Linked DNA regions of Homo sapiens: all the other regions are linked to region 4. Evidence: fine-mapped expression QTL. A gene starts in region 4. Each other region holds a variant in brackets. All regions are shown on one strand. Distances are between the middles of the regions.

The links.
Region 1: its variant is fine-mapped to the expression of GRAMD1A in whole blood (TOPMed, PIP above 0.99).
Region 2: its variant is fine-mapped to the expression of GRAMD1A in whole blood (TOPMed, PIP above 0.99).
Region 3: its variant is fine-mapped to the expression of GRAMD1A in whole blood (INTERVAL, PIP above 0.99).

Annotation. Positions count from the first base shown.
Region 1 is chr19:34,975,925-34,984,095 of GRCh38, forward strand. No RefSeq gene overlaps it. Among named protein-coding and RNA genes, the nearest start is that of ZNF792, 16 kb to the left of the region's middle. The variant C/T (reference allele first, on the strand shown) is at 3,640.
Region 2 is chr19:34,943,992-34,952,162 of GRCh38, forward strand. It overlaps ZNF30 (zinc finger protein 30), which reads left to right. Exons shown (of 5, transcript NM_194325.3): 5 at 1-1,177. The coding sequence ends at 847. Among named protein-coding and RNA genes, the nearest start is that of ZNF792, 16 kb to the right of the region's middle. The variant G/A (reference allele first, on the strand shown) is at 4,852.
Region 3 is chr19:35,021,812-35,029,982 of GRCh38, forward strand. GRAMD1A (GRAM domain containing 1A) reads left to right here. Exons shown (of 20, transcript NM_020895.5): 15 at 1-53; 16 at 140-227; 17 at 1,089-1,100; 18 at 1,425-1,532; 19 at 1,616-1,736; 20 at 4,238-4,658. The coding sequence ends at 4,330. Among named protein-coding and RNA genes, the nearest start is that of SCN1B, 4.6 kb to the right of the region's middle. The variant A/ACCACGGAATCC (reference allele first, on the strand shown) is at 4,473.
Region 4 is chr19:34,997,468-35,002,467 of GRCh38, forward strand. It overlaps GRAMD1A (GRAM domain containing 1A), which reads left to right and starts at 2,856. Exons shown (of 20, transcript NM_020895.5): 1 at 2,856-3,019. The coding sequence starts at 3,012. RefSeq lists an enhancer at 241-916 and silencers at 2,691-3,070, 3,341-3,470.

The sequences.
Region 1 (8,171 bases), 20 kb before region 4:
TTCTTCCACCACCAGTGTTTCTGCTGAAACCATATTCACTTTATTAAATTAATCAGGGAAGAAGGGACGGGGAGAAATGAAAATAACCAAGCTTGCAGCACATTCAGCGGTCATCATGAGGTCATCCTGCTCTCTGACCTGCCCTTTCTCACAGTGGTTTGGTGCCTGTTGTTCTAGAATCACACAGACCTGTTCCAAGATGATAGTTCCCCTTAACTGCTCTAGAGATAAGAACTTGAACATTACGAAATGTTAAGTTTTGGCCGGGTGCAGTGGCTCACGCCTGTAATCCCAGCACTTTGGGAGGCCAAGGTGGGTGGATCTCCTGGTCAGGAGTTCGCGACAAGCCTGGCCAACATGGTGAAACCCCGTCTCTACTGAAAATACAAAAATTAGCCAGGCATGGTGGCAGGTGCCTGTAATCCCAGCTACTCAGGAGGCTGAGGCAGGAGAATCGCTTGAACCCAGGAGGCAGAGGTTGCAGTGAGCCAAGATGGTGCCACTGCACTCCAGCCTAGATGCCAAGAGCAAAACTGCCTCAAACAAACAAACAAACAAACAAAAGAAATGTTAAGTTTTCCATTTGAGATATTTTTTCAGGTTCTGTATACTGATGAAACCACTGATGCCATTTGGTCTGAAGGAACCCACAGGAGCTGCTGACTCACTAAAGAATGCAGTTTTCACACCCTGATTTCATCCCCCTAACCCCAAGCAATCAACCACCCCAATTCTCCAGCTCCTCGTCCTTCCATGATCCCCTTAAAATCGCCAGCCCAGAACTCCTTGGGGAGATGGATTTGAGGGTTTCCTCTCATGTCCTCACTTGGCGCCCTGTGATCATGAAACTCTTTCTCTGCTGCCAACCCTGCTGTCTCAGTGGAATGGTCTGTCACTGCACAGTGGATGTGTGAGCCTGTTGGTCCTATAACACTGCTTCATCAGAATGCTCTGAGGCTCCATACCCCAGGCCCACCCTGCACTGGCCAGCTCCCCCTGCCCTTCTCCCCATTGCTGTACTCCCACCCTCCTCCACTTTCTTCCCTGAGAGCTGGCTCCCAGGGTCTGCAGGGCTCATCCAGGTTGGTTCTGTGGCCAAGGGGCATGGTTCCAGCTCAGCCCCTTCTGCCCCTTGGACTTGAGAACCAGGGTCTGCAGTCCACAGTGGAGTAGGCCTTGTGTATGGGCTCTGGGTCCATACTTAGGACCTTATGAGGGGCAGGTGATGGTAGAGGAAGAGGCTACCCCTAGTGGGCATTTGATTGGCAATGGGAAGGCTTAGAAAGGGGTCACAGGCTGGAGAGCTTCATGGACTGCATCCCACCATGAAGGAAATGGAAACTTGGCTTTTCCATTCTCAGGTTACAAGGGAAGAAACTTTCATGATGGTGTTGATAAAGAATATTCTGACTGAATAAGTTGGGGCCAATTTGGGGTTGGGTCTCAGGGAAATGAAGAGGCTGTAAGAGCCCAAATCTTTCCCTTCACGTGGCCCCCAGAGTCTTTAAACTCTCCTACTTCTTCAAGGCCCAAGCCCCTTCCTTCAACTCATCTTGGATCACACGTGAACAAAGTAACAAACATTTATTAAGAATTTGTATTCACAGCCTGGCACAGTGGCTCACGCCTGTAATCCCAGCACTTCGGGGAGGCCGAGGCTGGTGGATCACCTGAGGTCAGGAGTTCGAGATCAGCCTGGCCAACATGGCGAAACCCCGTCTGTACTAAAAATCCAAAAAATTAGCCGGGCATCGTGGCGGGCACCTGTAATCCCAGCAACTTGGAAGGCTGAGGCAGAGAATCGCTTGAACCCGGGGGGCAGATGTTGCAGTGAGCCGAGATCATGCCATTGCACTCCGACCTGGGCAACAAGAGCAAAACTCTGTCTCAAAAAAAAAAAAAAAAAAAAAAAAGGATTTGTATTCACAAAACTTCGTGCCAGGCTGGATGCAGTGGCTCATACCTGTAATGCCAGCATTTTGGGAGGCCAAGGCGGGAGGATCGCTTGAGCCCAGGAGGTGGAGGCTGCAGTGAGTTATGATCAAACCACTGCACTCCACTCTGGGTGACAGAGCAAGATCTTATCTCAAAAAAACAAAAAATCACCCAATTCTGTGCCACAGGGAAACTTTTGGGGACTATGAATGCACACATTTGCTAGAAGCCATTGAAGTATACACTCAAAATGAGTACATTGTGTGTGTAAATTATACCTCAATAAGTTGATTTAAAAAAACTGCATCAGAAGATTGGCAAGAATATTGGTAATTGTCAAAGCTGGATGATGGACACGTGGCAGCTCATTATGCTTTTCTCTCTACTTTTGAGAATGTTTAAATTTTTCATAATAAAAAAATAAATTTATTCTGTGCTAATACATTTAGTTCTGGGAAGCAAAGTGTCATTGGGTATGTAAGAGTCACACTTTAATTCTTCCATGTCACAAGCAATTCACTGAGCACCAGCCTTGTGCCAAACATTGGGCTGGTACACTGGAAATCTTATGACAAGGTCACAGCCTGCCCTTGTCCCGATGGTTTGCACAGTGGAGGGAAAGAGAAGGGCGCTTAACAAATAATTGCCCAGGTAAATGGTGACTTTCATAATCCATATAAAGAAGCCAGATGCCATCAGATATGATGGAAGAACCCACCTTGCTCTAGGCAATCAGAAAGGCTTTCTAGAGGAGGTGGTGGTTAGACTGGGTGCTGAAGGATGAATAGGAGAGTGAGAGAAAAATACAGGAGCATTTGTTGTTATTGTTGTTGTTGTTTTGAGACAGGGTCTCATTCTGCTTCCCAGACTGGAGTGCAGTGGCACTCACTATATAGTGGCACTCATAGCTCACCATAAACTCGACCTATTGAGCTCAAGCGATCATCCCGCCTCAGCTTCCCCATTAGCTGAGACCACAGGTGCCCTCCACTATGTCCGGCTAATTTTTTTTCTTTTCTTTTTTGCTAGTGACGGGGTCTTGCTATGTTGCCCAGGCTGGTCTTGAACTCCTGGCCTCAAGTGAGCCTCCCGTCTCAGCCTCCCAAAGTGCTGGGATTACAGGCGTGAGCCACAATGCCAAGCCATACAAAGGAATGTCTTAATTCAGCAAGCTTTTATGGCATCAATGCTATGTGATTAATTCCAAGTACTTTTCCCTGGGGAACTCTTATTCTACCAGGAGATTCCAAATGGTGGTAAACACTTTATTATGATTCAAAGCGTTAATTACTATAATGGAAAAAACCTATCTCATTGGGAACCAAGGAGAGAAAGAATTCTTGGAGAGAATTATTGCTGAAGTATTTACAATGGAAGTTGCTGCTAAACTGGGTGTTAAAACACAGTTGATGTTCGCTAGGTGCACCAAAGGTCTGCATGAAGCAGAAGTGCTCCAGCTGTTCAAAACCTCAAATGAGCACTTTGTTCCAGGAAGAAAGACAAGGGCCTGAAACTGGACTTTGGAAAGCGGGTGGATTTGTAGAGGAAGGAAGAGCATTGCAGGAAGGTGGATCGCACAGGTTTTAAGGGGTACCTTCTGGTGGTGTGTGAGAGACAGAGTGAGTGGAGCTGAGGGAGCACCCTGAAGAGCAGGGGGATATTTGGCTGGGTGTTTAGCTAGGGTAGGGTCAACACGGAACCCTT[C/T]GATGCCAAGATGAGGAGGTTGGAAAGGACCCTGACAATGGGACCTCACTCCCAGTTGCATTCCCCTATCACTGCCTCAACTTTAGGTGTGTGGAAGAGCAGACCCTGGTGGCCTTTCAGTACCAAGAGTCATCTTTGGTCAAAATTGCTGAGGATCAGGTCTGACTAGGAGCACCTAGTCTGGCTGGAGGCAGAGGTGGCCAGGAGCCGAGCACCAGGGGAGAGAGAGCTCTCAGCATGATGAGGAGAGCACCATCCAGTTTACATATTTCTTTCTGGAGGAATCTTCAAGTTCTCCCAACTTGATTCAGGACAGGTGACCCCCAAACTGGGGCTTAGCATGTGAGGGTTCTTGGCTTTGCTCAAGAAAGAATTCAAGGGTGAGCAGTATGGGCCAGTGGTAGGGTAGAAGAAAAGAGGCTCATTGAAGAAGCCGTGTTACAGCTCCATGACTGCTCCTGCAGAGCAGGACTACCCGGTCCCGTAGGCAGACAGCAGCAGCTCAGAGCAGTTCTGCAGTCAGATTTATGCTCACATTTAATTGCACGTAGATTAAGGGGCAGTTTATGCAGACATTTCTAGGGAAGGGGTAGTAGCTTTGGGGTCATTATATCATTGCCATGGAAAGGGGTGGTGACTCTCCGGTGTTGCCATGGCAATGGTAAACTGACATGGCGCACTGGTGGGTGTGTCTTATGGAAAACTGCTTCCCTCCCGTCCCTGTTTTAGCTAGTTCTCAGTTTGGTCAGGTGTCTGAGCCTCACCTCTGGAGTTGAGCCCACCTCCTACCTCACGGGTGTACTGCAGCCAGTGAGTGTCATTGAGTCCCTGCATATAACAAACAGACTCCGAGATCTGCCTTCACCCAGTGGCAGTTCATGACCTTTTGGACATGGTGCATAGATAGTGATAGAATAGAAAGGCAGTAACGTCATCCACTATGCATTGTCTTCGTTCTAATCACAAAATAAGTGTTTGAAAAATTAAGCATTATATTTTCAGGTGCCTTTCAAATTCTAGACCCAGCGTACATACATACATACATACATACATATATATATTATGCATAACACATCTATGTGCCGTATTTACTTTTTTTTTTTTTGAGATGAAGTCTCACTCTGTTGCCCAGGCTGGAGTGCAGTGGCGCCATCTCGGCTCATTGCAAGCTCCGCCTCCCAGGTTCAAGTGATTCTCCTGCCTCAGCCACCCGAGTAGCTAGGCATGTGCCACCCTGCCCAGCTAATTTTTGTATTTTTAGTAGAGATGGGGTTTCCCCATGTTGGCCAGGCTGGTCTTGATCTCCTGACCAGCCTCCCAAAGTGCTAGGATTACAGCATGAGCCACTGCGCCCAGCCTTTATTTACTTTATAACTGTACTTACCTTATGTAATGAGTATATATGAAGTAGTGCTAAAATATACATATTTAACATTTAAATATCATGCAGCATTAAAAGACATGGCTGGGTCCAGTGGCTCCCATCTGTAATTCCAGCACTTTGGGAGACCGGCAGGCAGACGGAATGAACCCAGGGTTTTGAGACCAGCCTGGGCAAGATGGTGAGACTCCATGCCTACAAACAATACAAAAATTAGCCAGGCATGGTGGCATGTGCCTGTAGTCCCAGCTACTCAAGAGGCTGGGGTGGGAGGATGGCTTGGGCATGGAAGACCAAGGCTGCAGTGAGCTGGGATGGCATCATTGCACTCCAGCCTGGGTGACAGAGCAAGACCCTGTCACAAAAAATAAATAAATAAACAAACAAACAATAAAAGACATATAAATAAATAACTGTCCTCTACCTTGCATCCACATCCCATAATCAATCATTTTCGTCTTTTGGCTCTTCTATTATTGCTTTATGTTGCTGAATAATTTGCATATTCTAATATCTCTTTTGCATTTTAATCAGTATTATTGAAGGATAGTTTATATACAATAAAATGTGTCTCTTTTTTGTTACTTATCGTTTTGAAACACCTGTATTCCACATGTGTTTATTAGGTGTTTACGATGCTCTAAAAGTGCATTACAAATAAGTCATCAAACCACTAGCTTAGCAAATTCACACAGGCATGTCAGCAGTGGGGAAAATAAAACAATTAATTATAATGTCCCATTAATAATATCCTGTAAATATCAAACACAACGCATTTTTTTTCTTTGTCCTCATTGCAAACTATACTGCCTAGGCCATCCGTAAACAAAAATTTTTGTGTGTATTATAAGTATTTCCATCAGTTTGGGATTCTTAAACTCAAAATTCTTGGCTCTACCAGTTGCAAACTTTTAAAATTTTAATTCTAATCAGTCATATAAATGCACAATAGCAAAAGTCAAAGAATTCAACAAGATTTCTAAACCCAGCAGCTCTCTTCTCTACTCCATGCCGTCCCACCCCATCCCCCTCTCCAGAATTAGCCACTCTCTCTTTTAGTGCATAGTTCTATTTTCATCTCCTTTTTTTTTTTTTTTTGAGTTGGAATTTCACTCTGTTGCCCAGGCTGTAGTGCAGCAGTGCCATCTCCGCTCACTGCAACCTCTGCCGCCCGGGTTCAAGCAATTCTCCAGCCTCAGCCTCTCAAGTAACTGGGATTACAGGCATGCACCGCCACACCAGGCTAATTTTTGTATTTTTAGTAGAGACAGGGTTTCACCGTGTTGGCCAGGCTGGTCTCGAACTCCTGACCTCAAGTGATCCGCCCATCTCAGCCTCCCAAAGTGCTGGAATTGCAGGCATGAGCCACTGTGCCCGGCTCCACGTTTATAAATAGCAGGTTTATATACAGTCTTGAATTTGAATGTTATATATTATCAACTTACTTTTTACTAGAAGATGATGAATTCGCTCTTTTCACTCCTCTCCCACACACATATTTCCTTCCCCCCCCTTCAATCCTCCCAGAATTGTCATGTCATGATTTTTATTAAGTTCACTGATTATGTTATGGAGATCAGGAAAATGTTAGAGATGAGCTATGTCGTGCGCTGTCCTTACATTTCTTTCTCATGCAAACTTTTTGCTTTTCTTTACAACTGTAGTTGAGATTTGTCCTTTTCTCTGCTTTGAATAATTTAAACTCCAATCTCTGTCCTTCTGCTCCAATCTATACTTTCTTCAAGCCAGCTGCATGATTCTCCTGCTGGGACTTCACTTCACCATCTAGTCATGTTGGTCCTCCATTTTCTCTTTCCTGGTTTACTCCCTTGTTTAGGGTGAAAATATCTTCCAGGAGCTTCCTGAGAAAGACTGTTTGGGAGGAAACTTTTTGAGACTTTGTTTGTCTGAAAATGTCTAACCCTGTTTCCACTTGAGTGATAATTTGATAGAAGTCCAGGTTAAACAGCAGTTTTTCCCCAGAGTGTCCAATGTCCTCCCACCTGTGATCCTTTGACTGTGATCTGTTTGGCTTTTTTTTTTTCTCTCTCTGGAAACCTCTAGAACTGATGTTCTGAAATATTATTACCATATTTTAACAATTGTGGAGCACTCTGCAGGCTCTTCAAATTTCTTTCAGTTATGGGGACATTTCTTTAATACTTTCTTCACTACTGGAGTTTCTGTTTTCTCTTTTTTGGAATTTCTGAATTTATCCTCTAATTTTCTTATATTGTCTCTTATTATCCACTTTTGTCTTTTATTCTGCTTTCCAGAAGTTTTCCTTTTAGTTTGTCATTGTTTTTTAGAGACAAATTCTCAGCGGCTGGGCACGGTGGCTCATGCCTGTAATCCCAGCACTTTGGGAGGCCGAGGCGGGCGGATCACAAGGTCAGGAGATCGAGACCATCCTGGCTAACGCGGTGAAACCCCTTCTCTACTAAAAATACAAAAAATTAGCCAGGCGTGGTGGTGGGCACCTGTGGTCCCAGCTACTCGGAAGGCTGAGGCAGGAGAATGGCGTGAACCCGGGAGGCGGAGCTTGCAGTGAGCCGAGATTGAGCCACTGCACTCCAGCCTGGGCGTCACAGAGAGACTCCATCTCAAAAAAAAAAAAAAAAAAAGAGACAAATTCTCGCTCTGTCACTCAGGCTGGAGTGCAGTGGCACTATCATAGCCCACTGCAGCCTCAAACTCCGGGGCTCAAGCAATCCTCCTGCCTCAGCCTCCCAAGTAGCTAGGACTGCAGGCTTGTACCACTTGTACCACCATGCCCTGTTAATTTTTTAATAGAGATAGGGTTTCACTATGTTGCCCAGGCTGATCTCAAACTCCTGGTCTTAAGAGATCCTCCCACTTTGGTCCCCAGTGTGGTGGTGTTGGGTGACGGGACTTTTAAGAGGTGATTTGGTCATTAAGAGAGACTGATGCCATTCTCTCGAGACTGGGTTAATTCTGGAGGCAGTGAGTTCTCACTCTTTTGGGACTGGATTGGTTATTGCAAGGGCAGGCTGTTATAAAGTGAGGTTCCCCTTAAGTTTTGCCCCTTTGACACACACCTGCTTCTCTTCTGCTTTTCCATCATGTTATGATGCAGCACTAGCCCCTCCCCCGAAGCCAACCAGATGCCACCCACTCGGTATTGGACTTT
Region 2 (8,171 bases), 52 kb before region 4:
ACCTTTTGAATGTAAGGAATGTGGAAAGGCCTTTAGACTTAGTTCCTTCCTTCATGCACATCAGCGAATTCATGCAGAGATAAAGCCCTACGGATGCAAGGAATGCGGGAGAACCTTCAGTCGTGCCTCATATCTTGTTCAACATGGAAGACTTCACACTGGCGAGAAGCCCTATGAATGTAAGGAGTGTGGCAAGGCCTTTAGTACTGGCTCATACCTTGTTCAGCATCAGAGGATCCATACTGGGGAGAAACCCTATGAATGTAAGGAATGTGGCAAAGCCTTTATTAGTCGCCATCAGCTTACCGTACATCAAAGGGTTCATACTGGAGAGAAACCCTATGAGTGTAAGGAATGTGGCAAGGCCTTCAGAGTGCACGTACATCTCACACAGCATCGGAAAATTCATACTGATGTAAAGCCCTATGAATGTAAGGAATGTGGAAAGACTTTTAGTCGAGCCTCGTACCTTGTACAACATAGCAGAATCCATACTGGTAAGAAGCCCTATGAGTGTAAGGAGTGTGGCAAGGCCTTCAGTTCTGGCTCATACCTTGTTCAGCATCAAAGAATTCATACTGGGGAGAAACCCTATGAATGTAACAAATGTGGGAAAGCCTTTACTGTTTATGGACAACTTATTGGACATCAGAGTGTTCACACTGGTGAGAAACCTTTTGAATGTAAGGAATGCGGGAAGGCCTTTAGACTTAATTCATTCCTTACTGAACATCAGCGGGTACACACTGGTGAGAAACCCTTTAAATGCAAAAAATGTGGGAAGACCTTTAGATACAGTTCAGCCCTTAAAGTGCATCTGAGAAAACATATGAGTGTTATACCCTAAGAGTCTGAGGAGTGTGGGAAGTGCTTCGTGTGTGGCTCAAACATTGTTGAACATCGGGGAATTTATGCTGGTAGGAAACTTTCAAATGTGAAGAATATTGGCAGGTCTATTCTCATCTTATAATTCATAATATAACTCAGAAAACATAAGAATATTCCTTTGTCATTTATAGGTTTGTAATACCAATATTTATACTGGTGGACCATTCAGAAAAAGTGGGAAACGTTATTACTTAATGGTTACAGCACTGACAGCATGAACTTTTATATGATGCATTTATTCTAATGTGATTGTATGAACAAGTGAATAAAAAACCTTGGACCTCCTAAACCACTGCTGAACTTCAAATAATTCATTATTTTTTAAAACCAGTTAACAATGTAATGAAAGCCTTTAGCCATGGCACTCACGTTAACTATCATCATTGTTATTCCACTGCCTTGCAGCCAGTTAGATATTAGGCACTACACTTATCACCTTACAGCATTGTTTTAAAATGGTGATAATAGAACCTACATTCTTATTAAAAAAAAAAAAAAAAAGCCAGGCTTGGTGGCTGAAGCCTGTAATCCCAGCACTTTGGGAGGCTGAGGCAGGCGGATCACGAGGTCAGGAGATCAAGACCATCCTGGCTAACACGGTGAAACCCCCATCTCCACTAAAAATACAAAAAAAAATAGCTGGGTGTGGTGGCGGGCACCTGTAGTCCCAGCTACTCAGGAGGCTGAGACAGGAGAAAGGCATAAACCTGGGAGGTGGAGCTTGCAGTGAGCCAAGATCATGCCACTGCACTTCAGCCTGGTGACAGAGCTAGACTCTGTCTCAAAGAAAAAGAGAAAAATTGAGACCTCAATTAAACTGGGCATCTGAGCTGGGCACAGTTCAAATGGGAGGTCGGGAGGCTGAGGTGGGAGGTTCACTTGAGCCCAGGAGCTCGAGATCAGCCTGGGCAATGTAAAGAGACTCTGTCTCCACAAAAAAATAACAAGTAAAATAGAATAAATTGGCTATCTGGCACCTATCAGGGACATGAGAGTTCCATTGGATAGCTTTACCGAGAACCCAGAATTGTGTATTCTGGGAAGGGAAATGTATGCCTTTGTTATTATCAGTAATATCTAACACTGAAGGAAATAAGGAGTTATTTGGCCTTGTATTGTGGCCATAGTATATCTAGAGACATGTGTGATTTACGTTTATATTTTAGGTATCTGTAAGGTAGGAGATTGCTAGAGTTTTTACTCTGAAGTGCACAACTCTTAGGCAATGGCCCAATAGTTTGCAATAAATGTGAAGATGAGGCCATTTGTTGACCAGGTCATCCAGTGCTAAGATGACTGCCTGAAGTTTGGCCAATTGTGTTGACTGCTGGGGACATCCTGTCTAAGATGCAAAGTAGCAAGATTCCACTAATTTAAAAAACAACACACAAAAAATCAATATTTATGATGGTTGGCAGTGTCGTTCATACAGTCTGCAAACTGCTATTGCTGTTTACTTAGTTAATCCCAAGGGTCTCCCCAGGTAGCCAACCAGTCTAGGAGAGGGGGTGACTTCTTCCAGTACCATGGCATGTGGCAAGAGACTGAGGACAAAGGAGACCACCTCTCCTGTAGATGGAATACGCCAGAGGGCCCAGATTTGGCTCTATCCTGTATTAAGGAGGCCTCGGTAGCCATGCCAAGTTTGTAGGTTGCTGTTTCTTGACTCAAAACAAATGGGCAGCTAAGTATTAGGTCTGTGAAAGTCTCTATTTCTAGAAGAGCCTAGTATGTAGCTAGTCAGTTTGTTTTAATGGAGGCATAGCATGATTTTGAGAAGGGCAGTTTCTTGTATCAGAAGCCCTTGGGAAACTTCTGGCCATCAGAGGTGGTCTAGAGACTCAAGGACACATGAGAAGAGGTTGCCAAAGCCTTGACAGTGAAGGGATCTCTTAGGGCGCTAACAAATGTGTCTGTCGATGTCAATGTGGACACATTTTAAAGACTGCTGGGGGGAATCACCCTGTCTGATGTTATGGGTTATTATATAGCTAAGGATACAAGACACTGTGGTACTGGGGAGGGATAAACAACATAGGTCTAAAGAACAGAATAGATAACCCAGAAACGTGCAAAGAAATATAACCAACTGATTTTTGAAAAACAAGTAAAAGCAAATAAATGAAGGCAGATAAGGCTTTTCAGCAAATAATGCTGGAGCAATTGAACGTCCATAGACAAAAGATGTGAACATCAACTTAATCCCATACTTTAAACACAAATTCACTCAAAATGGATCACAGACTAAAATATAAAATATAAAAGTACAAAATGTTCAGAAGAAAATACAGGAGAAAATTGTCAGAACTGAAGGCTAGGTTTACCCTAGGTAAACCCATTAAACAAAAGAAAAAATATCCAAAAATAAGAGTATCAGTTTCCACATTAAAAAACTAACGAAGAGAAATGCAAAATGAGCAGAAGAGAGTATATAATAAAGATTAAAATGGAAGTCAATGAAATAAACAGAATGAACTGTGAAGAAAATCAGTGAAACCAAAAGCCTTAAGAACAATACAACTGATAAACCTCTAGCCAAGGATTATCAAGTTACAAAGAAGCACATAAATTACCCAGATTGGGAATGAGAGACATGACAGATTCTACAGATATTGAAAGGAAAATCATGAACCCATTTATGCCAATAAATCTGGGAAATAAAATAAAATGAACAAACTCTCTTTGAAGACACAAACCACTAAAGTTCACTTAAGAAAAATAAAAATGTATATCCCTATATTTATTTTTAAAATCAGATTTGTAATTAGAAACCTTCCTACAAAGCAAACTGTGGCTTAAATGGCTTCAGTGGTATATTCTACCAAACATTTAGGGAAGAAAACCTAAGAATGCAGAAACTCTTCCAAAAAAGTGGAAGCATAAGGAATGCTTTCCAACTTAATTGGTGAAGCTATTATAGTGATACCAAAACCACACAAAGGCATTACAAGAAAACCGCAGATCAATATCCTTCATGAACATAGGTATAGAAACTTCAACAAAATTTTGGCAAATCAAACCCAACAATACAAAAAAAGGATAACACATCAAGAAAATGTAGATTTACCCTCAAAATATAAAAGTTCACTTGATATTTGAAAATCAATGCAATTTACCATTAAAAGACTTTAAGGCCAGGTGCCCCAGTGGCTCACGCCTGTAATCCCAGCACTTTGGGAGGCTGAGGCAAGCGGATCACTTGAGGTCGGGAGTTTGAGACCAGCCTGACTAACATGGAGAAACCCCATCTCTACTAAAAATACAAAATTAGCCAGGCGTGGTGGCGGATGCCTGTAATCCCAGCTACTCAGGAGGCTGAGGCAGGAGAATCACTTGAACCTGGGAGGCGGAGGTTGCGGTGAGCCAAGACCGTGCCGTTGCACTCCAGCCTGGGCAACAAGACTGAAACTCTGTCTCAAAAAAAAAAAAAAAAAAAAAAAAAAAAAAAAAAAAAAGACTTTAAAACAAGGTAAAACGTGATTGTAGCAGGTAAACTCTAAAAAGAACCCCAAATCTCTACTTCCTGGAATTCTTACCCTTGGGTACCCCTCACACATTTTACAAGGGTTGATCTGTAAAGCCCGTATAAAACAGAAAACATGAGAACATGTAACTTCCAATTTTAGGTTATTGAAGACACTGGTCTCCTTCTTGGGTAGACTCTCCTGCTCTTGGATCACTTTCTCTGTTTGAAAGAATCCCTGTGACGAGCATCCCTATGGAGAGATCCATGTGGCAAGGAACTAAAGCTTCCTGTCAACTGCCATGGAAAAGAGATTAGAATTGAATCTTCCAGCCTCCAGCAAGTTTCCTGAGACTGTAGCTCCAGAGACAGCTTAACTGCAATTTCATGGGGGATTCTCAACCTTGACCTACCTAAGCTGCTTCCAGATTAATGTAATATTCTAAAATATGTAAACAAATGTAGAGTGACAGAAAGCAGATCAGTGGTTTCCTAAAGAC[G/A]GGTAGGTGGATAAGGAGGAAGAGATTACAAAGAGCCCAAGAAAACCTTTAATTTCATGGCTATAAACATGTACCAAAACTTGTACCTGTGAAATATGTGTAGTTTAGACTTCAATAAAGCTGTTTTTCTAAAAAGAAAAAAAAATACTTAAAAAAATCCTCATTTCCTAATTATTTTACTATTATCTATGCTTTAGAGGTTATTTACGTTTATTGCATCTATTCAGTGGAAACAGAATACAATGGCGTGCTATTGCACATATCTTCCCAACTCCATATTCAGAGACATCATGTTGTAGCTTGAAATTGGCCAAGACAGAAGTATTTACACCTAGGGTATTGGTAAACACTACAAACCAGAACTTGATCTGTTGTTTTATTGACCAGGTAGACTTAAGAAAGCAGAGAATATGTTAATAATTCAGATTAAACTTAAAAGTGTTTCATGTCTCTAGTTTCCCATTGTGAACAGCACAAAATTTTGAGGAAATATTCTTCCAATATTCAAAATTACCCTACAAAACAAATAAGTCACTGGCATTATTAATAAATGACTGCAGTTCCAAAAAATTTCTTTACTATTTCAATATCAACTAATATTTACTTTTAAAATAGGCAAGAGATATCAGTAGACATTTTACCATAGAAGTTATATGGGTGGCAAATAAAAACATGATTTAAAATATGCTCAAAATCATGAAGCCTTAGAGAAATGCAAGTTAAAACTACAATAAGATACTATTACTCCATCCCTAGTAGCATTATAAACATTAAAAACACAGATCATAGCAATTGTTGGTGATTATGTGACGAAACTGGAACTCTTGCTCACAATCAGGGAGGCAGGGGATGTAAAATGGTATAATAACTTTAGAACACAATTTGGCAGTTTCTTAAAATGTAAAATATTCACCTACCCTGCAACAAAGGCATTGCACTTTTAGATAATAACACAAGAGAAGAGAAAGAATATTCCCACACAAAGACCTACACACTAATGATTACAGTAGCTCAATTTGTAACAGACAAAAACCAACATGCAGCTAATAGAAGAAAAGGTGGGAGTTCCAGAGGAAAGAGAGAAACAAGGAGGAAGAGGGACTATTTTTAAGAAATGGCCAAAACTACCCAAATTTGATGAAAGACTTTTTTTTTATTTTAACACACTATACAGATGTAAAAAGACATAAATATAAACACCCAAGAAGCTCAATGAGCTCCAAGAAGGATGAATTCAAAGAGACTCACGCTGAGGCACATTATAATCAAACTGTCAAAAGACAGAGACATAAAGAGAATACTGAAAGCAGCAAAAAAGAAGTGACTCATTACATTCAAGGGATACTCACTAAGATTATCAGATTTCTCATCAGAAACCTTAGAGGGCAGAAGACAGAAGGCAGAAGGCAGTGGGCTGACATGTTCAAAGTGCTAAAAGAAAAGAACGGACAACCAAGACTCCTAAATCTGGCAAAACTATCCACCAAAACTGAGGGAGAAATGAAGACATTCCCAATTGAGGGAATGCGTTACCAAGAGAACTGCTGTGCAAGAAATGCTAAAGGGAGTCCTTCCAGTTGAAATGAAAGGACACTGGACAGTAACTCAGTGCCATGAGAAGAAATAAGGATCTCTAGTAAAGGCAAATACCTGGGAAAATTTTAAAGTTCATATTATTGTAACTTTGGTTTGTACTCCACTTTTTGTTTTTTATGTGATTTAAGAGACGAATGTGTTAAAAAATTATTAATCTATGTTTTTGGACACACAATGTATAAAGAGGTAATTTTGTGACATTACTATCTACAAGTGTTGGGGATGGAGTTGTATAAGATCAGAGTTTTTCTGTGTTATTAACGGTAAGCTGGTAAAAGTTCAAATCAGAGTATTACAAATCTAGGATGTGAAATGTAATCTCCATGGTAACCACAAAGAAAATAGTTATGGAATATACACAAAATGAAACAAGAATGAAATTAAAATGTTTCACATTTGAAAAATCAAACACACAAAAAGAGAGTAATATAGGAAATAAGGGACAAAAAAGCTAAAATCACATAGAAAATAAATAGCAGAATGACAGAAGTAAGTCCCTCCTTATCAGTAATTACTTTAAATATAACTGGATTAAATCCTCAGAGCAAAACACAGAAACTGGCAAAATGAGTTAAAAAACAAACAACAACAACAAAAAAAACACCGATAATCCAACTATATGCTGTCTACAAAGTTTCACTTTAGATCCAAAGACAGAAATAGATTGAAAGTAAAAGAATGGAAAAAGATATTCCATGCAAATAGTAACCAAAAGAAAGCAGGGATGGACATACTGGTATCAAACAAAATAGACCTTAAATCAAAATGTGGTTCCATGAGACAAAGAGAGACGTTACATATTAAGAAAAGATTCAAGACAGCAAGGACATATAACAATTATAAGCATTTATATACCTAATAACAGACCATCAGAATATATGAAGGAAAAATACACAGAATTAACAGAAGAAATAGACAGTTCTACAACAATAGTTAGAGACTTCAATAACCCATTCTCAATAATAAATAAAACAATCAGAAGACCAATAAGGAAATAGAGCACTTGAACAATACAATAAGCCAATTAGATCTAACAGAAAATATATAGAATACACGATAACAATAGAATACACTTGCACATGGGATATTCTCCAAAATAGACCATGTCAGGCCATAAATTAAGGGTCAATAGATTTTAAAAGATATATATCATATAAAATATCTTCCCTGATCACAAGAGGTTAGGAAAACTTGAAAATTCACAAATTTGCAGAGAGCAAATGACACTCTTAAATAATCATTATATCAAAGAAATCACAAAGGAAATTATAAAATAGAGATGAAAGAAAAGGAAAACAATATACAAAAACTTGTAGGATACAACAAAAGCAGTGCCTAAGTAGGAAATTTATAGCTATAAAGATTATATTAAAACAGAAGAAAGATCTCAAATCAAAAATCTAACTTTACAACTTAAAAAAACTTAAGAAAAACTTTATAACTTAAGAAACTTAAGAACAACTGGCCAGGCGCGGTGGCTCATGCCTGTAATCCCAGCACTTTGGAAGGCCAAAGCAGGCAGATCATGAGGTCAGGAGTTCGAGACCAGCCTGACCAACTTGGTGAAACCCTGTCTCTACTAAAGATACAAAAATTAGCCAGGTGTGGTGGTGCACACCTGTAATCCCAGCTACTCAGGAGGCTGAGGCAGGAGAATTGCTTGAACCTGGGAGGCAGAGGTTGCAGTGAGCTAAGATCGTGCCACTGCACTCCAGCCTGGCAAC
Region 3 (8,171 bases), 26 kb after region 4:
GCCCCAGCACCCAGATCCTGACCCCTGTGCCCGGGCCGGCATTCACACCTCGGGTACGTTCCGTTGGGGCCGGGTTGGGGTAGGCGGAGGATCGGGGGTCCTGGACTGGGCCATCTGACTCCAAGCTGCTCTCCTGCAGGCTCCCTCAGCTCCCGCTTCTCCGAACCATCTGTGGACCAGGGCCCCGGGGCAGGCATCCCCAGTGCCCTGGTTCTCATCAGCATTGTGTGAGTAAGAGACAGGAGCAGTGGCCACACAGGCCTGAACCTGCCTCCTGGCTGTGTGACCTTGGGCAAGTGTGTGGCCTCTTTGAGCTCTCTGCTTAAGTGGGAGCGTGGGTTTGCTCACAGCAAGGATTAGACAAGGCAATGTTTGGGATGTGCCGGTTTGTCATGGAGAAGCCTTCCCTGCTAGAACAGCAGAGCCGGGGGGGGCTATGGGAGATCAGAGGGGCCTGACCTCACCCAAGGATCAAGGGGGGCTTTCTGGAGGAGCAGGCACACAAAGATTCTGGAATTAGGTGCACAGGGAGAGGTGTGCCTAACAAGTGAGGTCATTTATGGACATTATGTTCTCTGTGCCCACTCCTAAGCTGGGCGATGCTGAGGACACCGCAGTGACCTTGAGGAAAAGATAGACCTCACACCAGACCAGAGTGATCCGGGCTGGGATGGGGGAGGTATGGGCAGAGGGGTTGGGGCTGGGAGTGGGGAAGCCCTGGGAGGCCAGCGGCGGCTTCCTCCCAGGCCAGAGGGGGCAGTCAGGATGGGCGTCCTGAGAGAGTGGAGACCGCGTAGGCTAAGGGCTTGGGCAGGGAGAACCCACACTCCTGCCCAGAAGCCTGCAGGAGTTGGCGGGCAGGACGCTGGGAGGAAACAGAAGCAGGATCCCGGGGTTGAGCAGACCCTGCGAGGTGAGGGTCAGGCCAGCTACATGCTCAGCCTCTGAGCCTCAGCTCTCAGCTCTCATCCAGTGAGGGGGCGTGGTGCTCTCAGCCAAGAGCTGCCCCGGGTGAGGAGGGCTGGGGGTGTCGGGGGCAGGCCAGGCGGCGCTCATCTCTCTGTCTCCCCTCACTGCTGCTGCTGCAGGATCTGTGTGAGGTAGGGTCCCGAGTCCTCCCCCTGCCCTCCCCTCCCTGCACCCCACCCCTGCTGCAGCCTCTTCTCCCCACCCCATGCCCCCCAGCTCCCCCAGGGAGGTGGCCTGGCATGGCAGTCAAGGGTATGGGCATCAGACAGACCTGGGTTTGAACACTGACTTCCCTGCTATGGACTGTGCAACCCTAGGCATGTCTCTCATCCTCTCTGAGCCTAATTCTCCTCCTCTGCAATGGGGGATAGAGGTGTCCCTACAAGATGTAGTTGTTTGGGGGTGTTCAGAGCATCTAGACCCCAGGAATCCTGACCTCTGACCCCTGTCCCCAGCCTTATCATCCTCATCGCCCTCAACGTCCTGCTCTTCTACCGCCTCTGGTCCCTGGAAAGGACAGCCCACACCTTTGAGTCCTGGCACAGCCTGGCCCTGGCCAAGGGGTGAGTGGGTAGCCTGGGGAAATGGGGGGGCTTGGGCACATCGGGGGAGGCCAAGGCCCTGCTCAGGCCTGGCATCCCCACAGCAAGTTCCCCCAGACGGCCACAGAGTGGGCCGAGATCCTGGCGCTGCAGAAGCAATTCCACAGCGTGGAGGTGCACAAGTGGAGGCAGATCCTGCGGGCCTCCGTGGAGCTCCTGGATGAGGTAGGAGGCGCCGCTCGGGCAGGGCTCGGGGCTGCGGGGCTGCAGGGTCCTGTGTTGAAACCCCACCGTGCGGCAGGCACTTCCCCTCTCCGGATCTCAGTGTCCTCCTCTGTAAAATGAGGAAGCCGCTCAGAGTCCCCACCCCACAGCATTGCAGGGGAAAGCATGGAAGCATGGATGGAAGACAGAACTGATTGGCTCACGTCCTGGAGAAAAGTCCAGAGGCGTCTCACATTAGGCACGGCCGGGTTTGGTCACTCAATGGCAGTAAGAGTCAGTCTCTCGTGCCCACTCTGCCCTGTGCCCATCTCCAGGGTTGGCTTCATTGGAGGCCACCCTTTTCCCCCCACAGGGGACCACGGAGCTTACTCTCATTGGCTGCTGGGGTCCCAGGCCTACCCCTGACACATCACAACAGCCAGGGCAGGCCACGTGTGGTCCCTCTACCCGCTACCCCACTCTGGGGTAACTAAGGGGTCACATGGTCTGAAGGGGAGAGACTCTCCAAAGGACCTGAGGTCTCATCTCCAAAACGGAGTGGACCCAGACACCCAGTGTAGTTCAGGGACAATGTCTACTCAGACAACCAGGTTCCAATTCCGGTGTGTGACCTCGTGCAAGTGATTTTGCCATGGTGGCCGTGGACTCCTCTGTGCACAGGATAATGACTGATGCTACCTCAAAGACTGTTGTGAGGATGAGACAAGTTGACATTGGGAGTGGTGCCAGGCCTGCAGGAAACACTGGATGTGGGCTGGCTGTCCTGAGTTTGAGCCTAGTGCCAGGGACAAAGCAGATGCCCAATAAATGTGATGTCATCACACGACAATTCCCTCAGGCCCCAGTAGACTCAGGCCAGCAGTTGCGGTGGGTCAGAGCAAGTGTCAGGCCAGCAGTTGCGGTGGGTCAGAGCAAGTGTCAGGCCAGCAGTTGTGGTGGGTCAGAGCAAGTGTTAGGCACTCGGGGAAGGTGTCGAGGGGGAAAGCGGATGGGAAACAGAGTCTGGCATTGCCTGCATTTCCAAGGCCATCAGAGCTGAAGTTGTGGGTGACGGTGAAAATCTTGTCTCATTGGACCCTTCCATATCAGAAGGCTCATCTTTAGGGGTCTCATTGCCCCCCGAAATCAAGCTTGGGAGAGGCTCACACTGGAAAGGGCGGGGCAGGATGGGGTGGGGAGGAGATGAAGGCTGAGGCCCCATCACTCATAGAGAGGGTAGGCAGGGCCCCCCATCCTGCGTTATTTTATTTTATTCTTTTGAGACAGGATCTCATTCTGTTGCCCAGGCTGGAGTGCAGTGGCACGATCATGGCTCATCGCTGCCTCGAACTCCTGACTCAAGTGATCCTCCTGCCTCAGCATCCTGAGTAGCTGGGACTATAGGCAGGCACCACCACACCTGGCCAATTTTAAAATTTTTTGTAGAGACCAGAGTCTCACCATGTTGCCCAGGCTGGTCTCAAACTCCTGGCCTCAGGCAATCCTCCCGCCTCGGCCTCCCAAAGTCCTGGGATTGCAGGTGTGATCCACCACGCCTGGCCCTGAGTTAAATTTTTATCATTTTCCTCTCTGTCAAACTGCTAAGGGTGCAGAGTTGACGTCACAGATTGGTGCTCACAGTAGATGTAGACTGAGCACTTACCTGCAGCTGGGCTGTTCTAGGTTTTAAGCATGACTGCTTTATCCCCACAGCCAGCCTTTGAGAAGATGCTCTTGTTATCCCAGTTTTTTTGAGACAGTCTCGATCTGTCACCCAGGCTGGCGTGCAGTGGTGCGACCTCTGCCTTCCAGGTTAAAGCGATTCTCGTGCCTCAGCTTCCCAGGTAGCTGGGATTACAGGCACCCGCCACCACGCCTGGCTAATTTTTGTATTTTTAGTAGAGACGGGCTTTCACCATGTTGGCCAGGCTGGTCTTGAACTCCTGACCTTAAGTGATCCACCGGTCTCAGCCTCCCAAAGTGCTGAGATTACACGCATGAGGCACTGTGCCCGGCCGTTATCCCGGTTTTATACATAGGTAGGCGATATGAGGCATCCAGAGGTTCGAGGAGCTCAGGAGCTTGCCCGAGGTCACAGAGTGGGTAATGGTGACAGCTAACATGTGCTGAGCACTTAGTGTACACCAGGTTCTCAGTGCTCTTCAGAACCCTGAAATAATCCTGTGGAGCAGATGTGTTATAGACCCGTATTTCAAATGAGGGGATTTTGGCTCAGGGTGGTTACGGGACTTGCCTGAGGTTAACTGAGGTAACAAGCAGCAGAGCCAGGATTTGAACCTAGGCCATCGGGGTCACAGGCACACACTAAGCCCCTTCCTCTGCTGCCTCTGAGAAGTTAAACTGGGTGCAGCATGGCTGTGCTCTTTTCACCAAGGGACCCTGGGGTGGGGCAGTATGGCCTCTAGACCGTCCTCAGTTTCTCAATGGCAAGGTGGGGGTGGGCGACATCACCCCCCAGCCTCCAGCGTTCACCCCCGACCCTGCTCACCTCCTCCCCGCAGATGAAGTTCTCGCTGGAGAAGCTGCACCAAGGCATCACAGTCTCAGACCCTCCCTTTGACACCCAGCCCCGGCCCGATGACAGCTTTTCCTGAGGACCCCGGCCACGCAGCTGTTCCCCCACATGGACAGATGGACACACAGAGCCTCGGCGGCCACTGCTGGCACGGTGTGAGCGCCAGGCATCTCCCACCCGCCCCTCCCGACGGCCCAACCAGGGGCTGTGCAGACGTGGGG[A/ACCACGGAATCC]CCACGGAACCGAGATGCACTTTAGACCAGGGAGCTGGCCCGGCCTCTGGCAGGCCCCCCACTAACTTATTTTGCCCGGCTGAGGTTGTGGGGGGCGCCTCCTGGGGTGCACGATTCCCTCAGCTCTGGGTTTAATGTATTATATTTATTTGGGGCCGACAGTGCCCCAATAAAGGGTCAGAAGTGGCTGTGGCTGTGCCTGTGGGGCCCTGGGAGTGGGTGGGAGCCTCCTGTTGCACTCAGATCCTGCCATGGTGGGGAGGGGACCTCTGTCTGTGTTCTGGGGCCATAGTCACTGAAACGATCTGGAATTCCCGCAGCATCTTACACAAGCTTTACATCATCTGAGGTCAACGCAGGAACTCCGGGGACAGACCGTGGTAGCTGGAGTTCAAATCCTGCTTCCTAGCAGTGGTGTAAATGCAGCAGGTCAGCCCCCTGGAGCTCCAGTGAGCTTTCCTGTGCAATGGGTAGAATGGCAGTAGCTGTCTCTCAGGGTTGTTAGAAGGCAGTGGTTCTCAAACTTGAGCTGCATTCGAATCTCCTGGAGAGCTTGATGAAAAACAGACTGTGGGCCCCTCCCTCCAAATTTCTGGTTCAGTAGGTCTGGGGCAGGGCTGGGATTCTGCCTTTATAACGAGTTCCCAGGAGTTGCTCATGGTGCCATCCCAGACGACACTTTGGTTTTTTGTTTGTTTGTTTTAAGTTAGGGTCTCTGTCGCCCAGGCTGGAGTGCAGTGGCACAAACATGGCTCACAGCAGCTTCGACCTCCTGTGCTCAAGCCATCCTCCCACCTCAGCCTTCTGAGTAGCTTGGACTACAGGTGTAAGCCACCACGCCCGGCTAATTTTTTATTTCTTTTTGGAGATGGGATCTCACTGTGTTGCCCAGGCCAGTCTTGAACTCCTGGCCTCAAGCGATCCTCCCGCCTCAGCTTCCCAAAGTGTTGAGATTTCAGGCGTGAGCCACCACGCCCAGCCCCAGACCACACTTTGAGAACCACTATTATAGGTTCAAGGAGTTCATAAATGTGGCTACTTATAACAGGGCCCGGCACAGATGGAATGGAGTAAGTATTCAATAAATGTTACACTTATTGCATAAAAATAGAGGGAAAAAAGTAACTCGCGTAGTGAGTACCAAGTACGTACGTACCCAGCTCTGTGCCAAGATCTGATGTTCATTTTATTCTCACAGTGATTCCATGAGGTGGAGACAAAGATGTACACGCCCGAGGCTACCCAGCAGGGAGGCAGACTCCAGGCCTGACCCCTGGGGTCTCCACATTTACATGCAAGGTCCTAACCCCCTCAGGACCCCACCACAGCCCATTCAGGCTGACGTTGGTTGGATTCCTGTTTTACAGATGAGGAAATGAGCTTGGAGGCAAAGTCCCTGGTCCAGAAAGAACCCAGGTCCACCTCACGCAAACCTTGTCCTGGTTCCAGAGGGAGTATGTGGGGTAGAGACACCTTTGGCATGTCACACCCCCGGCTATAAGAATCATCCTAACTGATGGCTTGGAGCAGGGGACTGGAGGAGGGTTTGGAGAGTGGATCAGGAGTGGCATAGGAGGCAGAGCCAGCCTCTCCTATCCTCTAGTTGTGTGATCATGGCAAGGTACCCATGCTGAGCCTCAGTCTTCTATATCTGTAATATGGGTGTAATAATAATACCACCTATAGGAAAAATTAAATGAGCTAATGTTAGTAAAGTGCTTAGAATGCTTAGAACAGCACCAAGCCCATACATAGTAGGTGCTCACTGAACATAGCTTATAGGGCCGTGAGGTGCCTCCTGTCCAGTGCTGAGGCCTGTCCTCACTGTGCCTTCACCTACCATCCCCCACCAGTGGAAGGGCCCGGAACAGCAAGAGGGTTATTCTCTGCAGGGGAATTTCACAGCTCAGAAGGTGCTGGCGTAAAAGTCTAGACCACAGAGGTGTCGGATGTCCCTGGCTCCCTGCCCCTCTGCCATGGTCCTGCCCCACACCCTGGCTCCTCTTGCCTGGCAGGGCTGGGCCAGGGGGATTCTGAGACCTTACCCCACCCGGAATTGGAGGCTAGGATCTGGGTAGTGACCCTTCAGCCGAGAGTCTCACTCCCACCCTGGTCCTGACAGCCCAGAACTCCCATCTCCATTCTCTCAATTTGGCAGAACCTACTGGTAGGACAGGCCACTCACCACTGCTGGGGCAGGATTCCACATCCATCCTAGGCCAGCTACATGACTCTGGGCAGGGGCACGGCCCTCTCCCAGCCTCAGTTTCTTCATCTGTAAAATGGGGATAATAGAACTTGCTGAAGGTTTGGGGCAGTAGAAGTGGGTTCTGCAAATCCCAAGGACTTAGTGAACATTGGCATTCATTTATTTGTTTGACAAATATTGATTGAGTACCTACAATGTGCCAGGAACAGTTCAAGGTGCAAGAGACACAAGACAATATCCTCACCTGGGAGATTTTTTTTTTTTTTTTTTTTTTTTTTTTTTACATGGAGTCTCACTCTGTCACCAGGCTGGAGTGCAGTGGTGTGATCTCGGCTCATTGCCACCTCTGCCTCCCGGGTTCAAGCGATTCTCCTGCCTCAGCCTCCTGAGTAGCTGGGACTACAGGCATGTGCCCCCACGCCCAGCTAATTTTTGTATTTTTAGTAGAGATGGGGTTTCACCATGTTGGCCAGGATGGTCTCGATCTCTTGACCTCGTGATCCGCCCACCTCGGCCTCCCAGAATGCTGGAATTACAAGCGTGAGCCACTGCGCCCGGCCTTTTTTTTTGAGACGGAGTTTCGCTCTTGTTGCCCAGGCTGGAGTGCAGTGATGCGATCTTGGCTCACTGCAACCTCTGCCTCCCGGGTTCAAGCGATTCTTCCTCAGCCTCCCAAGTAACTGGGATTACAGGTGCCCACCACCACTCCCAGCTAATTTTTTTTGTATTGTTAGTAGAGACGGGGTTTCACCATGCTCGTCAGGCTGGTCTCGAACTCCTGTCCTCAGGTGATCTGCCCCCCTTGGCCTCCCAAAGTGCTGGGATAGCGGGGGGCGGCTCACATCTGTAATCCCAGCATGGTCAACATGGTGAAACCCTGTCTCTACTAAAAAATAAAAAAATTAGCCAGGCATGATGGTGCACACCTGTACTCCCAGCTACTTGGGAGGTTGCGGCAGGATAATCGCTTGAACCCGGGAGGCGGAGGTTGCAGTGAGACGAGATCAGCCACTGCACTCCAGCCTGGGCAACAGAGCCAGACCCTATCTCAAAAAAAAAAAAAAAAAAAAAAAAAAAAAAAGAACATAATGTCAGGTAGTGAGGCTGCTGTGGAAAACACTCAACAAGAGGTAAAGAGTAAAGGAGGTCAGGTTAGGAGCGGGGAAGGCAGTTTACCCTGAAGGGACACAGAAGACCTGACGAAGGTGACATTGGAGCCATGGAGGCCCACGGAGAGGGGCGGGGCAGGGGGGGAGAGCCGGGGCAGAGGGGAGAGCTGGGGCCAAGGCCCTGAGGCAGGAACGGGTTCCCTGTGTTGGGAACAGCAGGAGGGCCTGAACAGCCAGAGTGGAGTGGGAGGAAAGAGGGGTAGAAGGTGACATCAGGGACATAAATGGGTGCAGGGGATCACGAAGGGGTCCTCCTCCTGAAACAGCACCTCCAGATTCCCGGGGCTGCTTCTCTCCAGGGTGCCCCGCCTGCTTGGGTGA
Region 4 (5,000 bases):
CTCTGGTACAAGGAGACAGGAAATGGGAGGTTCAGGGCCATAGGGGGAAGAGGAAAGAACTCTACCGACCCTGAATAGAACAAGCAGCCACTGTGGTTTCTTCCAACAAGGGACACTCCATAAGCGTTAAAGTTTAGGAAGCAGAGCTTTGTGCATGGATGTGGAGAAATCGCAGAAACAATGATAATGGGGGACAGCAAGTTGCAAATGAAACAGAGGGAGCCTAATCGTGTATCTTTTTAAAAAGATACTGGATAATAGGTGATAGTGTTGGTGGATGCCTCCTGATGTAGAAAAAGGACAGAAAAGTACACAGGGTCCAGGCGTGCTGGCTCATGCCTGTAATCCCAGCACTTTGGGAGGCCGAGGCGGGCAGATTAACCTGAGATCAGGAGTTCAAGACCATCCTGACCAACACAGTGAAACCCCATCTCTACTAAAAATACAAAAATTAGCCAGGCATGGTGGCGCATGCCTGTAATCCCAGCTATTCAGGAAGTTGGGGCAAGAGAATCGCTTGAACCGAGGAGGTGGAGGCTGCAGTGAGCCAAGATCGAGCCACTGCACCACTCCAGCCTGAGCGACAGAGCAAGACCTTGTCTCAAAAAAAAAAAAAAAAAAAAGCGCAGGAAGGAAACACACCAACTGCATGGCAGGCAGAAGGCTCCTTGGGGGGCACGGGAAGGGAAAGGAGGGATGGGGAGCCAGGCCTTTGGTTGTAAGTGTAATCATTTATTTCTTTTAAAAAAAGGACCTGAAGCAAAATGGCAAAATGTCCACATCTATTCTATATAGGTACAGGGGACATAGAGGACTGTTATATTTTCTTCCTTTTTTTTTTTTTTTTTTTTTTTGAGATGGAGTCTTGCTCTGTTGTCCAGGCTGGAGCGCAGTGGTGCGATCCTGGCTCACTGCAACTTCCACCTCCCGGGTTCAAGCAATTCTCCTGCCTCAGCTTCCTGGGTAGCTGGGATTACAGGTGCAAGCCACTACACCTGGCTAATTTTTTTGTATTTTTGATAGAGATGGGGTTTCACTCTGTTGGCCAGGCTGGTCTCGAACTCCTGATAGGTGATCCACCCTCCTTGGCCTCCCAAAGTGCTGGGATTACAGGCGTGACCCAACGCGCCTGACCTGAAATAAATATTATTTAATTAAAAAACTAAAAGCATTACACTAGAAGAAACAGACCAAAGAGAAATCTAAAGAGATCAGTTGGACAGAGGAAGGTGGTGGGAGGAGGGCCTCTCTTCCATTGGCCGGTGGGAGGCAGCAAATGTCAGATGGTGGATGGGGGTTTTAGAGGTGGGGGTTAGCATGAGAGGTAGGGCACGGCGATAGGGGGGGTGCTGTCCATGCAGAGGGAATAACCAGTGCAAAGGTCTTGGGGTAGGAGGCAGGAAGGTGCCTGGTGAGTTAGAAGAACAGCGGGTAGGCTGGATGGGGGGTGTGAGCCAGGGGGAGATGAGGAGCTGAAGTCAGAGAGCTGACAGGGGCCTTGGGTGCCAAGGTGAGGACTTTGCTTTTACCTGGAGTGAGGTACAGCTGGGGCAGGGCTCTGAGCCAGGAGGGTAGTTAACTGACTCAGGTGGTCCCAGGCTCTCTCTGGCTGCAGGTGAGAACAGACAGTAGGGGCAGGGATGGGAGCAGGGAGATCAGGCAGGAGAGGATGGAGGCTGGGCCAGGGCGTGGGCAGCGGAGGAAGAAGAGTTTAGAATGGAGCGATTGATTTTATACGTGGAGCCCACAGTTTGTGACGGATTGGATGTGGTGTGAAGGAAAAGAGAGGGTCAGAAAAGACTCTGAAGTTCTGGGCCTGCCATTCATCAAAATGGAGAAGTCAGGTGGGCTTCTTTTGCAGGAGGAGGGGAAGGGTTGATGGAGAGGGTTGGGAAGGGAGTTTTTTCAAAAGAGGCGGGGACAGCGTACCCTGGAGAGCGCTGGGGAGCCACAGCCCCGGAGCTGTGAGGTGGGACTCGCATTTCTGTGTGGTTGGGCCAGGAGTCCAGGACACCACCTGACTCTGACCTCTTGCAGACGGGGCGGGGGAGGGGGGACGCAGGTTATGGCGTCAGAGCAGGATCGAATCCAACTCTGCCGCCTACCTACCAGGTGACCCCAACAAGTCACTTCCCATCTTAGAGGCCGGGCTTCTCCTTCCGTAAAAGGACTGATTTTGCCCGTTCCTGCGCTGTCCCCGGGAAAAGCCCTTACCACCGAGTTAGTGGGACTCCCAGCACTGGGGTGATGAGCGCAAGGTCTCAGCACAGATAAGAGCCAGGGAGGCTGGATTCTGACTTGGTACTTGGCCTGGCTGACCAAAACTGGGAAGTCCCTAGAAACGGAGGCACCGGACCTCCTGGGACCAGGAACCCGGGCTCAGAGACTGGGAGAGGGAAGGAGGAGGCGGCCAACCGGCCCCACCCCTTCCCGCCAGCTTCAGGCCCCCTCCCCCATACATACACCTCGGTTTCCCAGCATCTCCAGTCCTCCCCCACCTTCGCCCCGGCTCTCAGGTTCCTCCCTGGGAGGTCCAGGAGCTTCTGGCCAGGGGCATAGTAGTTGCTAGGGACCCTTTTCTAGGTACTAGGGGAGGGGGCTCCCCAACCTGCGGGCAGGCAGCTGCCTCCACGATGTTTGGTTTTAATAAAGTCTCTTTGTTTCCTTCTCTGTCTCTCTGCCCCTCTGCTTTCCCTTCTCTGTCCAGTCCCTCTCTCCCCGGCTTCTCCCTCCTTCTAGGCCTCTGCGGCCCCTCCCCGCCTTCCCTCCCGGGCTGGGGGCGGCGCCGTGACGCGGCGGGGCGGGGGAAGGAAGGGGGTGTCGCTGACGCCGCGGCGGCCTCCGGCGGCTCCGGCCTTTTGTGCGGGCGGTTGGGTCGGGTGGGGGCGGCGGCCGCGGAAGGCCAGGCCGGTGCCCTGCGGGGACGCCCAGCGCAGCCCAGCCCCGCGCAGCCCAGCCCTGCCCTGCCCTGCCCTGCCCTGCGCCCGGGGCGCGCCCACCGCGCCGCATCCATGTTCGAGTAAGGACCGGGCGACTAGAGCTCAGGGACCGGGCGCGCGGGGGAGGCCACCGGAGGGAGGGGGCGCCGCGGGCTTGGGGAGGGGGCGGAGCGGCCGCTGCAGAGGTCGGGGGCCTCTGCACATGGCTCTGGCCGGGGCGATCGGGGTGGGGGCGGGGCAGGGGGCCCCCGGGCGAGGGGTGCAGCTGGGGAGTGGGGCGCGGACGCAGGGCAGGGCCCGGGGTCTGGGTCGCCACTGCCGGCCCGCGACGCACTGGGTTGCGGGGTTTGGCTGGGGGCCCGCGGGTTCATCTGGCGGGGAGGGCCCTCAGGCCTGGCAACCCCCTGCCTGGTAAGCCAGGGGTGAGCGCGAGGCCGAACTGGGGCTCCGGCCTGGGATGGAGACAGGATCGGGACCAGCCCAGGCCCACAGGCCGCGGAGCCCTGGGCGCGCCGGGAGTAGGCAGCCCCCTCCTGCCTGGGCCCCCTCCCACCGTCCTTGGCTGTTGCGGGTCTCGGGGCTGCCGGGGGTGGGGGCTTCCTGCGTCTCTCCAGGACCGCGTGCTTGAGGTCATGGAGGGCGGGGGGTCCTGTGTGCTCGGAATTGACTTCTTACTCCCCTTCCGGTCCAGGTGGGCGCATGTGCTTCCGACTGTGAATTGTCTTGCAAGTGTGTGTACGTGTGTCTGGGGCTGCTAGCCTGCAGCAGCTTTGGGCCTCTGATAGAGTTCCTGCGTGTAACTTAACCACTAATTCTGACCGCGGCTCTGTGTGTCACTGTAAGTTACCTGTGTGTGTCTGGGGCTCCAAATCTGTGGCTGTGAGCAGCTGGTTGTGTGCGTGTTGTGTCTCATTCCATCTGTAGCTCCCTGTGCAAATATAAATTACCCCTGTGTGTCTGAGTGTGACGTTGGAGTGTTTGTACATGTGTCTGGAGTTACCGTGTGTAGCAGCTCTGATCCTTCTTGGGCTGTGTGTGTTTTACCATTAATTCTATCTGTAGCTCCAAGCGTTGCTGTAAGTTACCAGTGTGCGTCCCATTGTGACTTAGTGGTGTGTGTACAAGTGTGCCTGGGGCTCTGGGTTCTACCATGACCCTCTGTGCCTGCATATGCCTGTAATTTAGCTCTGAAACGCTCTTCTTTTTTTTTTTTTCTTTTGAAATAGAGTCTGGCTCTGTCGCCCAGGCTAGAGTGCAGTGGCACGATCTCGGCCCACTGCAACCTCCTCCTGCTGGGTTCAAGCAATTCTCCTGCCTCAGCCTCCTGAGTAGCTGGGATTACAGGCGTGTGCCACCACGCCTGGCTAAGTTTTGTATTTTTAGTAGAGATGGGGTTTCACCATGTTGGCCAGGCTGATCTCGAACTCCTGACCTCAGGTGATCCACCCACCTCGGCCTCCCAAAGTGCTGGGATTACAGGCTTAAGCCATCGCGCCTGGCTTGAAACTCTCATTTAGCTCTGTGTGCCAATGTAAGTTACATTTGTGACATTGTTGTGTGTCTGGGGCTCTGTGAGTGTGGCTGTAACTTAATTTGATTCCATCTTTGTGTGAACATTCCCTTGTGTATTCCTTTGTGACAGTATTGAGTGGTGCCTAGGCCTCTCTGTGTACAGCTGAGACCCTCTGTGGTTTTGTGTGTGTGTGAACAGTGTGAGACCCCTTGTGGCTCTCTGTAGGCTTGGAACCCTCCCTTCTAAGACCCTGGGAGTACCCAGGGCACTTTGGAGGCAATAATGATAACTGACGTTGTCCACCTGTTACAGTTAGTATAGCATGTGCCACGCATTATTCCACTACCTGGCCACTGTGTCCTCGAGATCCACGCCCTGCTCGGCTGCATTATTCCCAAGTCCTGCTTGACTGTGAGCATCAGGGCTCTCCACCAGCTACAGCCACTGACACCTCCACCCCTTGCCACTTTACTTTTTCTTTTCCTTTTTCTCTTTCTTTTAGACGCAGTCTCGCTCTGTCGCCCAGGCTGGACTGCAGTGGCACGATC